Linked DNA regions of Homo sapiens: region 2 is linked to region 1. Evidence: fine-mapped expression QTL. Tissue or cell type: whole blood. Region 1 holds a variant in brackets; the other region holds the start of a gene. All regions are shown on one strand. Distances are from middle to middle.

Region 1 (5,017 bases):
CATGGCGCCCAGCACTGGGCTTCAGCCAGGTGCTCGAGAGCTTTGAGGCCATGATCTCTGCTCTTCCCTCTCCCAGATTGGTGGGGAGGGAGGGCGGGAGGTAGATATAGGCCTGTTCTTTTTAGCAATGTGATTCTTGTTGTTGATTCTCTCTCTGGAGTTCATGTGCTGCCTCAGGAGACTCTGATTTTATATTTGAGAAAAATAAAGGCGTTCAATCTGCCCTGGCTGTGCTCTGGGCACCAAGGTGAGGGAGAGAAAGTGGGCCAGAGGCTTAGCCCATTGCTTTTAAGAAAAGCTTAGCGGCCAGGTACGGTGGCTCACGCCTGTAACCCCAGCACTTTGGGAGGCTGAGGCGGGTGGATCACCTGAGGTCAGGAGTTTGAGACCAGCCTGGCCAACATGGCAAAACCCCTCCTCTACTAAAAATACAAAAATTAGCAGGGCATGGTGGTACATGCCTGTAATCCCAGCTACTCGGGAGGCTGAGGTGGGAGAATCGCTTGAACCTGGGAAACAGAGGTTGTAGTGAGCTGAGATCATGCCATTGCACTCCAGCCTGGACAACAGAGCAAGACTCCATCTCAAAAAGAAAAAGAAAGAAAAGCTTGGCTTGCATTCTTACTAAAATGTGAGTGACCAATAGCACCAACCAGAGGTAGGTGAGGATCACGTTTGTGTGTCTGTGAATGTGTGGTGGTTTTGTTTTTTGGTTGTTGTTGCTTTTTTTTTTTTTTTTTTTTGAGATGGAGTCTCACTCTGTCGCCCAGGCTGGAGTGCAGTGGCACGATCTTGGCTCACTGCAGCCTCTGCCTCCTGGGTTCAAGGGATTTTCCTGCTTCAGCCTCCTGAGTAGCTGGGACCACCTGCGCATGCCACCACGACTGGCTAATTTTTGCATTGTTAGTAGAGACGGGGTTTCACCATGTTGGCCAGGGTGTTCTTGAACTCCTGACCTCAGATGATCCGCCCACCTCAGCCTCCTAAAGTGCTGGGGTTACAGGAGTGAGCCACCACGCCTGGCCACTAAGCTTTTCTTAAAAGCAGTGGGCTAAACCCTGGCCCACTTTATCTCCCTCACCTTGGTGCCCAGAGTTACCAGAGTGAGCCACCACTGTGGAACAATCATAGCTTGCTGCAGCCTGGGCAACAAGAGTGAGACCCCATCGAAAAAAAAAAAGAATAAAAAGGCCCAGAAAGGAGGCCTCACCAAGGAAGTGACATTATTGAAGCAGATACCTGAAGGAGGTGAGGGAGAGGCCATGTAAGTACCTGGGGAAGATCCAGGCAGAACAGTTTGCACAAAGGCCCTGAGATGACACCTCGCTTGGTGTGCTGGAGGGACAGTAAGGGGACCAGAGTGGCTGGAGTGGAGTGAATAAGAAAGCAGAAGGCCGGGCGTGGTGGCTCACGCTCATGCCTGTAATCCCAGCACTTTAGGAGGCTGAGGCTGGCGGATCACAAGGTCAGGAGATTGAGACCATCCTGGCTAACATGGTGAAACCCTGTCTCTACTAAAAATACAAAAAAATTAGCCGGGCGTGGTGGCAGGTGCCTGTAGTCCCAGCTACTCGGGAGGCTGAGGCAGGAGAATGAACCCGGGAGGCGGAGGTTGCAGCGAGCCGAGATTGTGTCACTGCACTCCAGCCTGGGCGATAGAGCAAGACTCCATCTCAAAAAATAAAAGGAAAGCAGAAGGCCGGGTGCAGTGGCTCACGCCTGTAATCACAGCAGTTTGGGAGGCAGAGGCAGGCAGATCACGAGGTCAGGAGATCGAGACCATCCTGGCTAACACGGTGAAACCCGTCACTACTAAAAATACAAAAAAATGCGGCCGGGCACAGTGGCTCACGCCTGTAATCACAGCACTTTGGGAGGCTGAGACGGGCGGATCACGTGAGGTCAGAAGTTTGAGACCAGCCTGACCAACATGGAGAAACGCCGTCTCTACTAAAAAAAAAATACAAAATTAGCCGGATGTGGTGGCATACGCCTGTAATCCCAGTCACTCTGGAGGCTGAGGCACAAGAATCGCATGAATCTGGGAGGCGGAGGTTGTGGTGAGCTGAGATCATGCCATTGCACTCCAGCCTGGGCAACAAGAGCAAAACTCCGTCTCAAAAAAATAATAATAATAAATAAAAATAAAAATACAAAAAAATTAGCCAGGCGTGGTGGCGGGTGCCTGTGGTCCCAGCTACTCGGGAGGCTGAGGCAGGAGAATGGCGTGAACCCGGGAGGCGGAGCTTGCTTGCAGTGAGCCGAGATGGCTCCACTGGCACTCCAGCCTGGGCGATACAGCGAGACTCTGTCTCAAAAAAAAAGAAAAAGAAAAAGAAAGCAGATGAGGGTGGGGAGATTATTCAGGGACTTGTGGGCTGCAGAGAATACTTTAACTTTTATTCTAAGTGCTGTGGGAGCCACGGAAGAGTCTAAGCAAAGGAGGGATGTGACCTGGCTCGGGTGTTCATAGGCGCCCTCTGGTGGCCACTCTGGGAGAAACAGGCTTAGGAGGCCAGGGCCAGAGCTTGAAGACCTGGTTGGTAGTCCAGGTGGGTGGGTGGGTGATAGTGAGGGCTCTGGCCAGGCTGGGGTCCTGGAGGAGTGAGAAATGGTTGGATTCTAGATACGATTTAAAGGCAAAGCTGGCAGGGCACGGTGGCTCACGCCTGTGATCCCAGCACTTTGGCTGGCCAACATGGTGAAACCCTGTCTCTACTAAAAATACAAAAATTAGCTGGGTGTAGTGGGCGCCTGTAATCCAAGCTACCTGGGAGGCTGAGGCAGGAGAATCACTTGAACCCGGGAGGCGAAGGTTGCAGTGAGCCAAGATCATGCCATTGCAATCCAGCCTGGTGACAAGAGTTAAATTCCGTCTCAAAAATAAAATAAAAATAAAGGCAAATCTCGGCCGGGCGC[G/A]GTGGCTCACGCCTGTAATCCCAGCACTTTGGGAGGCTGAGGCGGGCGGATCACCTGAGGTCAGGAGTTCGAGACCAGCCCCAACATGGAGAAACCCCGTCTCTACTAAAAATACAAAATTAGCCGGGCGTAGTGGTGCATGCCTGTAATCTCAGCTACTCGGGAGGCTGAGGCAGGAGAATTGCTTGAACCTGGGAGGTGGAGGTTGCAGTGAGCCGAGATCGCGCCATTGCGCTCCAGCCTGGGCAACAAGAGCGAAACTCCGTCTCAAAAACAAATAAATAAATAAAATAAAAATAAAGGCAAAGCTGATAAGATTTGCTGCTGGGTTGGTGTGGCCACTGGGTTGATGTGATGGCCTGTGGCGGGAATAGGAATCCACATGACTTCTTTTGGCCTTATCACCTGGAAGGACAAAGCTAACACACAGGGTGGGGCAGATTGGGGGGCTGATTAGGAGCTGGATTTCAAGTGTGTTATGTTTGAAGTGTCTGTGACATCTCTGCAAGGAGGCATCCAAGAGGCAGTTGGCTTTCTGGGTCTACAGTTAGAGAAGGGATCCTGGCTGGATTTCTTTTTCTTCCTTTTTCTTTTTCAGATGGGGTCTCACTCTGTTGCCACCCAGGCTTGAGTGCAGTGGCACAATCTCACTGCAACCTCCATCTCTCAGGTTCAAGCGATTCTCCTGCTTCAACCTCTGAGTAGCTGAGATTATAGGTGCCCACCACCTCGCCTGGCTAATTTTTGTATTTTTAGTAGAGACGGGCTTTCACCATGTTGGCCAGGCCTGTCTCCAGCTCCTGACCTCAAATGATCCACCCATCTCCACCTCCCAGCTGGGATTACAGGTGTGAGCCCCACTGCAGCACCAGGCCTCTTTTTTTTTTTTTTTTTGAGACAGGGTCTCACTGTGTTGCCCAGGCTGGAGTGCAGTGGCATGACCAGAGCTCACTGCCTTGGCTGGACTTTTATATTCAGGAGTCATCAGGAGTCCGTGTGATATTAAATTAGTAAAACCTGAAGCCCTGAGGGCCTGAGAATGCAGAGGCTTGAGGCAAGAAGAACCCATGATCCTGGGACAGTGGCTGGCTCATTAATGAGTAATGCCAGGGCACTGATGTGGGTGTTTCAGACAGCAGAGTTTGGGAAGAATTAAGCAGGGCACCATCATAAAACCTGGAAGAGGTGAAACCCCGTCTCTACTAAAAATACAAAAAATTAGCCAGGTGTGGTGGTGCGCACCTGTAATTCCAGTTACTTGGGGGACTGAGGCACAAGAATCCCTTGAACCAGGGAGGTGGAGGTTGCAGTGACCCAAGATCGTGGCACTGCACTCCAGCCTGGGTGATGAAGTGAGACTCTGTCTCAAAGGAAAAAAAAAAACCTAGAATAAGCTGGGCCTGGTGGTTGTGGTGGAGGAGGAGGAAGACGAGAAGGAGGAGAAGGAAGAAGAAGAAAGAAGAAACCTGCAGCAGGGCTTGGTGGCTCACGCCTGTAATCCCAGCACTCTGGGGGGCAGAGGTGGGTGGATCACCTGAAGTCAAGAGTTCGAAACCAGCCTGGCCAACATGGTGAAACCCCCCTCTCTACTAAAAATTAAAAAAAGTTAGCTGGGTGTGGTGGTGCGTGCCTGTAATCCCAGATACTTGGGAGGCTAAGGCAGGAGAATTGCTTGGGCCTGGGAGGCAGAGGTTGCAGTGAGCAGAAATCACACCATTGCACTCCAGGCTGGGCAACAGAGAGAGACTCCGTCTCAAAAAAAAAAAAAAAAAAAAGAACCTGCAAGAACTCCCAAATTTTACTTAGGACAATGGATAATGTCTGGCAGGAGAAATCAGACTAACAACGTTTGAGTAAAAATCACTAGCAATTTATTGAGCACCTACTGTATACCAAATGCTTTAATGCCATTCTTTCATCCTCATGACAACTCGAGGAGGTAGTCAGTCACATCTTCACTTGAAGGAAAGAATTCAGGCAGGACACTGATAGAGACCTCTCAGGCAGTGGGGGTTGGGAAGTAGAGCTGGTGGTCAGGGCGGGCTGGTCCAAGAGTCTGGAAGAACTCCCGCCCCTAGCACAGCGCCAAACACATGCG
Region 2 (5,236 bases), 94 kb after region 1:
TGAGCGCCCCTGACCCTCGAGCCTGTCGCAGGTACAAGCCCCCGCCGAGCGAATGTAACCCGGCCTTGGACGACCCGACGCCGGACTACATGAACCTGCTGGGCATGATCTTCAGCATGTGCGGCCTCATGCTTAAGGTGGGCGGGGTTGAGCTTCTATGGGTGTAGTTGGACCTGAGAACGAGGCCCGGGGGCGGGTTTGGAATGAAGCGGGGTGTCTTGTCATTGCTGATGGGGCGGGACCTGAGATCGGCCGGGAGTGGGGCTGCGATGACGCTGGGCCGAGAAAGCCCCAGTCTTTGGTGAAGTCAAGGATTCGAGTCAGGTTGGGGATGTGGCAGATTGGTCTGCGAGTGGGGCCAGGCTTTGAAGCAACTTGGAGAGGAGTTGTGGAAAAAGGGCAGGGTCTTAAGCATGTGGGATGTCAGAGTCTCTCTTGGTCCTGAGAGACGCAGGCCAGACAGTAGGACTAGAAACCACGTATCTAGAGTATGCCATGAGCAGGTGGGACTGAGGAATTCCGGGTGGGGCAAGGTCCCAGCTGCATCAGATGGAATCAGTGGGCATGATCTGGTGTCTGGAAAGGTGGCTTCGGGGACTCATTGTTGTGCCTTTCACTAACCTGCCCACCCACTTACCTTTCCCTAGCTGAAGTGGTGTGCTTGGGTCGCTGTCTACTGCTCCTTCATCAGCTTTGCCAACTCTCGGAGCTCGGAGGACACGAAGCAAATGATGAGTAGCTTCATGTGAGACTTGCCCTACAGAACAAGTGACTCTTGAGTAAGGGGTGGGGGGACCCCAGCCTGGCCATCCTAGACTGACACCTCTCTCCTGTCTCAGGCTGTCCATCTCTGCCGTGGTGATGTCCTATCTGCAGAATCCTCAGCCCATGACGCCCCCATGGTGATACCAGCCTAGAAGGGTCACATTTTGGACCCTGTCTATCCACTAGGCCTGGGCTTTGGCTGCTAAACCTGCTGCCTTCAGCTGCCATCCTGGACTTCCCTGAATGAGGCCGTCTCGGTGCCCCCAGCTGGATAGAGGGAACCTGGCCCTTTCCTAGGGAACACCCTAGGCTTACCCCTCCTGCCTCCCTTCCCCTGCCTGCTGCTGGGGGAGATGCTGTCCATGTTTCTAGGGGTATTCATTTGCTTTCTCGTTGAAACCTGTTGTTAATAAAGTTTTTCACTCTGGCTGTCAGCCTCTTCTGTTCAGTGGGGTGTTCCTCCTACCTGGCGGGAAGGGCTCTAGCCCCATAGGCCTGGTGTGGGGCCCCAGTCTGGAGGCTTCTGGCTGTTCATTTGCTTACTTCATAAACCTTGTGTCTTAAGTCAGGTGCTAGGGACAAGACAGTGACTTCTGCCCTCTGGCAACTCACCAGATGGCCCTGCTGACCTAGATAATCTAGGCTTTGGTTTCCTTTTTTTTTTTTCCTTTTTAAGAAAGAAAATGGTCTTGATCTGTCATGCAGGCTGAGTGCAGTGGCACAATCTATGTTCACTGCAGCCTCAAACTCCTGGGCTCAAGCAATCCTCCCACCTCAGCCTGCCACGTAACTGGGACCACAAATGCGTGCTACCATGCCCAGTTAATTCTTGTTTTTTTTGAGACAGAGTTTTGCTCTTGTTGCCCAGGCTGGAGGGCAATGGCATGATCTTGATCTCGGCTCACTGCAACCTCCGCCTCCCAGGTTCAAGTGATTCTCCTGCCTCAGTCTCCCAAGTAGCTGGGATTACAGGCATGTGCCACCATGCCCAGCTAATTTTTGTATTTTTACATTTTGTGTAAAATTACAAATTTTGTGTTTTCAAACCCGTCTCTACAAAACAACCCATGTTGCCCAGGCTGGTCTCAAACTCCCAGGCCCAAGTGATTCACCAGCCTGGCCCTCCCAAAGTGCTGGGATTGCAGGCTTGAGCCACTGCGCCTGCCCTGGGCTTTGTTTTCTTATCAGAGAATGAACTGGTAGGAATTGGGAAAGGCATGAAAGACTCGGGGTCCTTCCCCACTTGTCAGACCCTCTTTTCTCTCCGGAACACCCAGGGATCCTTCTCAACCAGGCTGGATCCCATCCCTGGTACTCCAGGGGTATTTACCCAACGTCCCAATCCCCACAGTATAGGACTCTTCATCAGATCCTCCTCTTAGGCAAGCTAGGTCCTTCCAGGACCCTAGCGCTGAAGGTCCATGGGACGGACACCCTGGATTCCCATGGACACACTACACCGGCTAGGAAAACCCGGCCCCCTTAGGAAAAGCACTTCTGCTCCTACCGGCATTAAGAGGCATTCCGTCTTGGAATTCCGGCATTAAGAGGCATTCCGTCTTCATAGCCCGTGAGACGCCAGTGTCACCTTTAGCCCAACCAGTGCCCTGAGGGTGGCATTTTCCTACCTTCCTGTAACGACCCCCGGGATTGCCCAGGGCTACAGCCTCTCTCCCGTGAGCCTCCAGACCGCGCCCTGGCCCCGCCCCCCACCCCGATTGGCCCGGCCGGGTCTGGGGGCGGGGCGTTTGCCCGGCCTTTCCAGGGCCGGGGAACCCCAGGAGGAAGCTGCTGAGCCATGGGCGCCTACGCGCGGGCTTCGGGGGTCTGCGCTCGCGGCTGCCTGGACTCAGCAGGCCCCTGGACCATGTCCCGCGCCCTGCGGCCACCGCTCCCGCCTCTCTGCTTTTTCCTTTTGTTGCTGGCGGCTGCCGGTGCTCGGGCCGGGGGATACGAGGTGAGTGGGGCCTCCGAGCTGAAACGTACAGGAGGCAGAGTGAAACCCAGAATACAGTCTAGAGGTGTGGGTGGGTCTGTCCTGTGGGTGTCTAGTGAATGGCTGATGATATGACAGTGTGGTCTGAGTGCGTGCTTTGTGTCATTGCGAGGTCTGGCTGTGCGCATCTGAGTATAGGACTGTGTCTGATTGTACCTGCCTCCGTGTCTCCGGGATGCTTGCCTAGACTTTGTCTGCACTTAACTGTGGGATTGGAGGGGCAGGAGGTGGCAGGGGGTGAGCAGTGTATGTGTGGGGGGAGGTGCTGGCTGAGAGCTGGGACTCTGGAGTCTGCCTGAAATTCCAGCCTAGCTCTTACACTTCCTGAGTGTGTGACGTTGGGCAAGTCACCTATCCTCTCTAAGCCTCAGTGCCTTCATCTGGAAACTGGGGATAACATCACCCCACCTCCCACGGTGGCCGTCTGCTGTCGGCAAATGCTGAACAAACATCAGCTACTTCTATTATTATTTTCCCGGAGTGTGAATGAGAGCTGCCCTGTGGGGTTGTGCAAAGTGGAGTTGTATCTATGAGCACAACTATGTATGTGTGTGTCCTGCCTGGGAGGGCCTGGCCTCCTCTGCACATAGGCGAGATCAGGCCTCTCTGAGTCACTCACCTCTAGATCAAGACTTACTCTGCAGCCCCCGACCTCGGGGGTTATTGACAAGGTATGTGTGTTTGGGGTCCCTGTGCAGACATGCCCCACAGTGCAGCCGAACATGCTGAACGTGCACCTGCTGCCTCACACACATGATGACGTGGGCTGGCTCAAAACCGTGGACCAGTACTTTTATGGAAGTGAGTAGAGGATGGGGACTGGTCCCTGGGATCCCCATGGTCCCTGTAATCCCTCTGGGTCCTGGACATTAGGGTGGGGCCAGTGCTACCCTAATATCCAGGGTTTGGGCTCCTCTGTCTAGGAATAACCCCCTTGGCTCTGCTGTTCCCTGAGAGCCTTATCCCTGTTATCCACAGTCAAGAATGACATCCAGCACGCCGGTGTGCAGTACATCCTGGACTCGGTCATCTCTGCCTTGCTGGCAGATCCCACCCGTCGCTTCATTTACGTGGAGATTGCCTTCTTCTCCCGTTGGTGGCACCAGCAGACAAATGCCACACAGGAAGTCGTGCGAGACCTTGTGCGCCAGGGTGAGCCTACCCCAAGGAAGTGAAAAGAGGAAGCCCAGCCCAGCTTCTGCTTCTGCATCTCTGGTTTCTGAGATTTGTCATGCCACGTGCAAGCTGTATAACATGCGTGTCGCTCCGCCTGCCTGGACTCTCCATTTGGAGACCTCCTATACATCCCACAAAGCCCCACCTGCTGTGCATCCTCTGGGAAGCCTGCCATGCAGGGGGCCTCTTTCCCATATCTGGGAACTATGGCCTGGGAGCGACCCCTCTTGTCCTTCCGCCAGAAATGTGTACACAGGCAGGCTTTCACATTCCCAGTATCACCCACCCTACTCCCACTCCTGGCTCTGACCGCTGACCCTGACCTTGCCTGTCCTGGCACAGGGCGCCTGGAGTTCGCCAATGGTGGCTGGGTGATGAACGATGAGGCAGCCACCCACTACGGTGCCATCGTGGACCAGATGACACTTGGGCTGCGCTTTCTGGAGGACACATTTGGCAATGATGGGCGACCCCGTGTGGCCTGGCACATTGACCCCTTCGGCCACTCTCGGGAGCAGGCCTCGCTGTTTGCGCAGGTGCGACCCGGGACCTCTCTTGGGCCCACTTCTTCACTCACTCTGGCTCCTCCCTCGCCCAGTCAAACCCCGCCCTCTCCCTGCAATCTCACAAGGACCAGGCCCAGGCCTAGGCCTGTTGAAGCCCTGCCCCTTGAGTGAGCCGTAAAGCCAGTGGCTTTTGAGCTCTGGCCTCAGCCGGCTATGCCCAGCCCAGGCTGACCCAGCTCCGGCTGGCTCCGCCCTCTCCCCTAATAGGCCCCTCTTGGTGTTCTGGCCCCACCCACTAGCTCGGGTCCTGGCTCCTCCCTAAACCGGGTGGCAAGTGGATGCCTAGGCTGCCTTAAAAACAGGTTCATTACCTGTGCTCAGACCCCATCCATCCTCAGGCTGTGGAAGGGGGAACCTCATTCCTGGAGTCAGGCCTGCTCTGCGCTTTGACAGTGCTGGGGAGGTGAACCTGGGTTCTGATGTTGGACCCGCCCTCTCCCTGCTAGCCCAAGGTGGTGAGTTCTGAAACTTCCCCAAGCTTGGAAATAAGCTGGAGGCCTCTCTGTTTCAGCCCTACGTGTTTTTGTTTTTGTTTTTTGAGACAGGGTCTTGCTGTCATCCAGGCTGGAGTGCAGTGGTGCAATCCTAACTCACTATAGCCTCAATCTCCCGGATTCAAGCGATTCTCCTGTCTCAGCCCCCCTAGTAGATGAGACTACAAGAGCGCACCACTACGCCTGGCTAATTTTTAAATTTTTTGTAGACAGTCTGCCCGTGTTGTGCAGGCTGGTCT

What was found. PIP is the estimated chance that this variant, and not a neighbour inherited with it, causes the effect.
Region 2: it holds the start of WDR83, and the variant in region 1 is fine-mapped to the expression of WDR83 in whole blood (TOPMed, PIP above 0.99).

Annotation. Positions count from the first base shown.
Region 1 is chr19:12,758,209-12,763,225 of GRCh38, reverse strand. It overlaps BEST2 (bestrophin 2), which reads right to left. Exons shown (of 10, transcript NM_017682.3): 10 at 4,768-5,017. HOOK2 (hook microtubule tethering protein 2) reads left to right here. Exons shown (of 23, transcript NM_013312.3): 23 at 1-223. Among named protein-coding and RNA genes, the nearest start is that of BEST2, 8.9 kb to the right of the region's middle. The variant G/A (reference allele first, on the strand shown) is at 2,920.
Region 2 is chr19:12,664,029-12,669,264 of GRCh38, reverse strand. WDR83 (WD repeat domain 83) reads right to left here and starts at 2,458. Exons shown (of 11, transcript NM_001099737.3): 1 at 2,273-2,458; 2 at 638-757. It overlaps MAN2B1 (mannosidase alpha class 2B member 1), which reads left to right and starts at 2,523. Exons shown (of 24, transcript NM_000528.4): 1 at 2,523-2,722; 2 at 3,460-3,562; 3 at 3,740-3,913; 4 at 4,280-4,473. The coding sequence starts at 2,564. It overlaps WDR83OS (WD repeat domain 83 opposite strand), which reads left to right. Exons shown (of 4, transcript NM_016145.4): 2 at 32-137; 3 at 648-745; 4 at 840-1,192. The coding sequence ends at 906. RefSeq lists a silencer at 2,381-2,660 and enhancers at 2,911-3,040, 3,061-3,190, 3,251-3,300, 3,841-3,890, 2,957-3,904 and 2 more.